Regions from separate parts of the Homo sapiens genome. Here region 2 is linked to region 1. The links come from fine-mapping of genetic effects on gene expression. A gene starts in region 1. The other region holds a variant in brackets. All regions are shown on one strand. Distances are between the middles of the regions. Region 1 holds the start of ICMT (isoprenylcysteine carboxyl methyltransferase). Region 2 overlaps ACOT7 (acyl-CoA thioesterase 7).

Region 1 (2,795 bases):
CCTTGAAGCCACTGGTTCATATCCAGGTCAGACTAGAAGGCTCAAGGGACTGAAATCATAGTGTAGGGAAAAATCCTACAGTGGCTGTGGGGATGCACTAGATGTGACCTAATAGAAATTAGAGATGAAAAAGGCCCATGAAGACAAGCCAGAGCCCTGCCCCTGCCCGCCACCGAGGACCTGCACCCCTTCCGGGAAGGGCTGCTCAAGTTACGGAATGCTGTCACCACAGCTGCGGATGACAGCACCTTTGGGGGTGCCAGGGAGATCTGTTTCTGCCTGATTCACAATCAACCCACAGGCACGAAATCACAAGGGCTGAAATGTGAGCAACTAGGGGGAAGCCAGGAGACTTCGTTTCCAGAGAACCCTGAACAGCCTTCTGCCGGTCACAGATGAGACAGGGATGAGGAAATGCCGCTACAGACCCTCTGATCTGTCCACCCTCGCCTGAAAACCAGTATTTCCGAAGGAATTCTTACCAGCCAAAGTGACTCCAAGAAGACTGGCTAAAACTTAGCAGCGTGCCGCAGCCGAACACAAACCCCAGGAAACAAGCTCGGATGGCTATCTGAAAGGAACCCAAGAGAAGCTCAGTCATTCACAGTCCTCAGAGTACAGATCTGGGCTGCTGACCTTCCCGGAATAGGCAACCCACAGGCAAGCAGATAGAGCCGATTTGCTGAGGTTGAAAGGGAGAAGTGGGCGACCTGGGTTCAAATTCTGCACCCACCGCTCTCTGGCTGTGTGGCCTCCCAAATTATTTAACCTCTCTGAGCTTGCTTCCCCATCTACAGCCAGGGGATAACAGTACCTACCTTTTAGGACTGCAGTAAGGATTACCCACGTAAAACACTTAAGACTAACTGCTACCTACATTTTAGCTGTCATTATTATTATTATTCGTGATTACTATTCAGGGCTGTAGGAAAACTGCTTAAGCCTAGTTTATGAGGTCAGGGCACCCGGGCCTGTGCGCCCAGCCCCACCCACGTCACTGCGGGGCCTTTGACCTGAGACAGGGCAGCAGGTAGGTCTCTGCACCTTAAGTTACATAAAAGCACTCGCGGGCTCGCTCACTCCACCCCACGCGCACCTGCTGAGCTGCACAAGCTGCAATTTAACAACCCACTCCTCGGGTGCAGGGCGCCCGAGCCCGGAGAGAGAGGGTCCCCTCCTGCGACCTGAACTCGCGGATGAAGAGCGCGCGCGTGGGAGGCCACTGCGGGCCCGGGGAGAAAGGTGCCCACGCGCCGCGCCAAGCGGACCGCCGCCCGCCCCGCCGGCCCCCGCCGGCCCCCGCCGGCCTGCACCTGGTAGCGAGGCGGCCGATAGAGCAGCAGCAGCAGCGCGTTGAGCCCGGCCACGTAGAGCGCCAGCCCGGTGCGGCCCTGCAGGCCGGCGCGCGTGAGCAGCGGCAGCGCGAGCACCGAGGCGCCCAGCAGGAAGGTGGCGAGGCTGAGACGCGCCTCAGAGCCCGGCGGAGCCCGCGCCGCGCAGCCCGCCATGGCGCCGGGCGGCGGACTAGCGGGCGGCGGCGCCGGCTGTAGCCCGGAGAAACGCGCCGGCTGCGCCTGCGCACTGTGCCGCCGATGCCGGCCCGGGAAGGGCAGCTGCCCGCAGCTGCGCGCCGCCTGCCAGTTCTCGCGAGAACTCCGGCCCGCCCTGTTGCTGTCCGGAATTTGGCGGGAGCGCCCCGCCCGCCCGCCCCTCCCCGCCCCTCGGGGACATCCGGGCTCTGAGCCAGACTCTGTGCCGGGCGGGGGCCGGGAAGTGGTGGGAGAAGTCGCCGCCCGCGTCTGTCCAAACTTAGTCCCAAACTCAGGAGGTTCCTGTCCCAAGAAGCAATGTAAAGTTTGAAACGAGCCGAGCGCGGTGGCTCACGCCTGTAATCCCAGCACTTTGGGAGGCCGAGGCTGGCGAATCATTTGAGGTCAGGAGTTCGAGACCAACCTGGGCAACATGGGGAAACGCCGTCTATACTAAAAATACAAAAATTAGCTGGGCGTGGTGGCGCACGCCTTTAACCCCAGCTACTTGGTGAGGCTGAGGCAGGAGAATCGCTTGATCCGGGGAGACGGAGGTTGCAGTGAGCCGAGATTGTGTCACTGCACTCCAGCCTGGGTGACAGAGTGACACTCCATCTCAAAAAAAAAAATTTTGAAACGGCCGCACCCTCGCCGGCCCTGCGTCGTCCCCGAAAACCAGACGCCCTGGGGCGCGGGGCCAAGTGCGGCGACCTCCTGCCCTCCCTCTGCGGCTCCCTGGAAACCGGCCTGGACAACGGCACCTGGGCATCCATGCAACGGGACCACCGCCCGCTTAAATTCCTGTTGTGGAACAAGGCTGGACGGTGATGGGAATGCTCAGGATATGTTAGGTTTTCTTTTTTTTTTGAGACGGAGTCTCGCTCTGTCGCCCAGGCTGGAGTGCAGTGGTGCGATCTCGGCTCACTGCAAGCTCCGCCTCCCGGGTTCACGCCATTCTCCTGTCTCAGCCTCCCGAGTAGCTGGGACTACAGGCGCCCGCCACTGCGCCCGTCTTATTTTTTTGTATTTTTAGTAGAGACGGGGTTTCACCGTGTTAGCCGGGATCCATCTCCTGACTTCGTGATCCGCCCGCTTCGGCCTCCCAAAGTGCTGAGATTACAGACGTGAGCCACCGCGCCCTGCCTATATTAGGTTTTTAAATAGCAGGAGGCAAAGCTTTTCGGTGTGATCCTGACTTCACTTGGGGAAAAAGGGCAGGTATCTGAGCCTGGGAAAATGATCAAGCTATCAGCCAAAATGGTATAA
Region 2 (2,795 bases), 29 kb after region 1:
GGGAAGGGTGGCCTCCTCATTGCTCTGAACCCAGGGCACCATTCTGGCATGGGTCATGGGTGGAGCTGGGGGCCGAGGCTGGCTGAGGCCAGCCCCGGGGGGCCAAGGGGCATGGTGGCGTGGCAGAAGCTTCATGTGGCTGAGCTTGTCCCTCCCACCTCCAACCCCCTCCCAGACAGGAAATAACCCCGTCAGCCGTGACTGGGGCCCGGGACAGATTCCCAAGCTCTTGGCTGGTGTTTCTGCACATCTGGAGCCGAGTCCTCGCTCTCCAGGGGCCAGAGGGAGCCTTGTGCGAGGCCGCAGCTGTTGACGGGCCAGTCTTCTCCAGGCGGCAGGACAGATGTTGGGGCTTCAGGGACAGACTGAATTGGGAACATTCTCCCAGATGCCACTTCTGGGTGTGCTTGATTGGAGGGCCTCCTTTTCAGCCATGGATGCAGGTGGGGTCCTGGTCCCTGTAGTGGCCTTGGCTGGGCCAGATGCACAGATCAACCCTGCTACACCGATACCCTCACCACACACGTGCTCACAGATATGCAGACAGATGCACACGCACATGCACAGATATGTCAGTGACACGTATGCCCACAGCTTCACACCAACGGCACTGACACACATTCGTGCTGTCCCTCAGACCCCTGCCCTATAAGCCATCCCAGCAGACTCCTGCCTGAGTGGCTGGGGGAGTTTCCACGTCAGGCACAGAGTCCTGGCGCCAGCTGGGGGGCTCCTTCAGACAGGATTTTGGGGTGTCTAGGCAGTTTCTAGCAAGAGGCTGGGTCAGGGTGGGGCTCCCACACGCTGAGCCAGGCCACATTTGGCTCTTCCCACACCATCACCTCGCTGAGTCTTTCCCAGCAGCCCCACCCTGTTCATAGGAAAGCCACACAGGCTCAGAGCCGGCATCCTCTGCAAGCCAGACAGGGGGGTTGTGGGGTGCTGGCACTCCCACCAGGCAGCGTGGCCCTGAGCCCACATCCTCCCAGCATCTGGGCTGCCTATGAGGTCCAGGGAGCCAGGGTGTCTGGGGCCAGGACACCAAACCAGGGACCCACGGGAAATGGGCATTCATAGCCAGCAAGTCACCAGCCGGACACCAATCGGTGTGGCTGTGCCTGAGGTTCTAGGGTACATGCAGGTGCTGGTGCTGGGAGGGCTGAGACTGTCCACGGGAGCCCCAATGTCCCACACCCCCTGGGAAAGCAGCCCCCCCAAGACAAATGACCACCCAGGACACGTGGGTCCAGCCAAGCAGCAGCTTTATTAGTGGTGCTGGGTTCTTCCCATACCCTACAGCGTGCTCGGAAGCATTCCCGAGGGTTTCTGCCCAACGCCTCCCGGCGCTCGGGACAACACTGTGTAGCATTGATACTGGAATGATATAAATAAAGCTTTGGTGTGTAGGTTTGCAGGAGAGAGTACAGGTTAACACTGTGATACGAAAACTTCAGACAACACCAGCTCTCAATGTGAATTGGGTTTTTGGCCAAGGGGGGAACTTCTAAGTGACTGGACACTGGGCCCGTTGCCATGGCTACTCGAGGCACCAGTGGCAGGAGGAGGGAGTCTAGGGCTGAGGCTCCGCGTGGCCCTGTCGCTTCGCCTTCATCTGCAGGTACCGCCCTTTGCCTTCCTCAAAGCGCTTCTTCTCGTCCTC[G/A]GTCTCGGGCTGTGGACCACACACAGAGACAGGCAGGTTAGGGTCACTGCAGAACCAGTGCCGTGGCCTTGTGACCTGGCCTGGGGCCCTGCCCCCCACCCGTGGGATCTGCCCCACCCCTGGTGCATGCTGAGTACCACGCCTCGGCCCCGCTGGCCTCCTGGGACTGCCGGGTAGCCCAGGCATGGGGCTCATGTCCCACCTCGCTGATGGGCCTATTGACTGGGCTGGGTATGTTCAGCCAAGATGCTTTGAGGGGCCGCAGGAGCCACAGGTGGCAGAGCTCCATAGAGGAGACACTAAGGGCATGGCGGGTCAGAAGCAGTCAGTGAAGTGCCGAGCCCTGTGACATCCTCTCACCACCTTTCACAGCAGGTGACCTCCAAGCCCAGGGCCTGTTTGCTACTGGACTTCGGTGGAAAATGCACTTGATAATGAAACATGGGAGCTGAACGGAAGTGGAAAGGAAGAGGGACCCTGCATTCGCTGCACTCCCAGGAAAGCTGCACACAGTCACCACCCCGCAGAGAAGTGGGGAAAGCCAGCTGCACACGGTCACTGCCCCAGAGAGACGTGGGGAAAGCCAGCTGCACACGGTCACCGCCCCGGAGAGAAGTGGGGAAAGCCAGCTGCACACGGCCATTGCCCCAGCGAGAAGTGGGCAGATGCTGTGCTGCCTATGGCCTTGAGAAGGCCCCGCCCCGTACTGGGAGCAATAGGCCTGCTTTGTTGGGAGGGAGCCCTGTCACCACGCTCTGGACCGTACACTCAGGAGGCGGCACCTTGGACCCCAGGGACCCCATCTCATTGGTCTGGGGGCAGAGCCAACTGAACAGGTGGGATTTGGCCCAAGACGGGGTTCTGCCCAGGACGGTCCTGGTTCATGCCTGTCGACGGGCTGCGATTATGAACGGCACCCCCTTTCACTCTGTCTTGTGGCCCCTGGGCAGGTGCCACCCCTGGAGTATTAGGTGGTCACTTCTGATGTCCCATCTGTCCCAACGCCATGTTCTGACTGGCCCCACCCTGGCTGGGAATTCAGGTTTAATGAGCTGTGCTAATTCCTCTGGGACATTTCATCGCAACATTTTGAGGGTGTCTGAAAGCCAAAGAGATGGGGCAGTTGCCCTTCATT

Evidence for each region. PIP is the estimated chance that this variant, and not a neighbour inherited with it, causes the effect.
Region 2: its variant is fine-mapped to the expression of ICMT in whole blood (INTERVAL, PIP above 0.99).

Annotation. Positions count from the first base shown.
Region 1 is chr1:6,234,404-6,237,198 of GRCh38, forward strand. ICMT (isoprenylcysteine carboxyl methyltransferase) reads right to left here and starts at 1,561. Exons shown (of 5, transcript NM_012405.4): 1 at 1,314-1,561; 2 at 483-571. The coding sequence starts at 1,508. It overlaps ICMT-DT (ICMT divergent transcript), which reads left to right and starts at 1,837. Exons shown (of 5, transcript NR_103534.1): 1 at 1,837-1,933; 2 at 2,563-2,747. RefSeq lists silencers at 1,230-1,289, 1,500-1,829 and an enhancer at 1,794-2,766.
Region 2 is chr1:6,263,027-6,265,821 of GRCh38, forward strand. ACOT7 (acyl-CoA thioesterase 7) reads right to left here. Exons shown (of 9, transcript NM_007274.4): 9 at 1,246-1,669. The coding sequence ends at 1,571. Among named protein-coding and RNA genes, the nearest start is that of GPR153, 3.3 kb to the left of the region's middle. The variant G/A (reference allele first, on the strand shown) is at 1,661.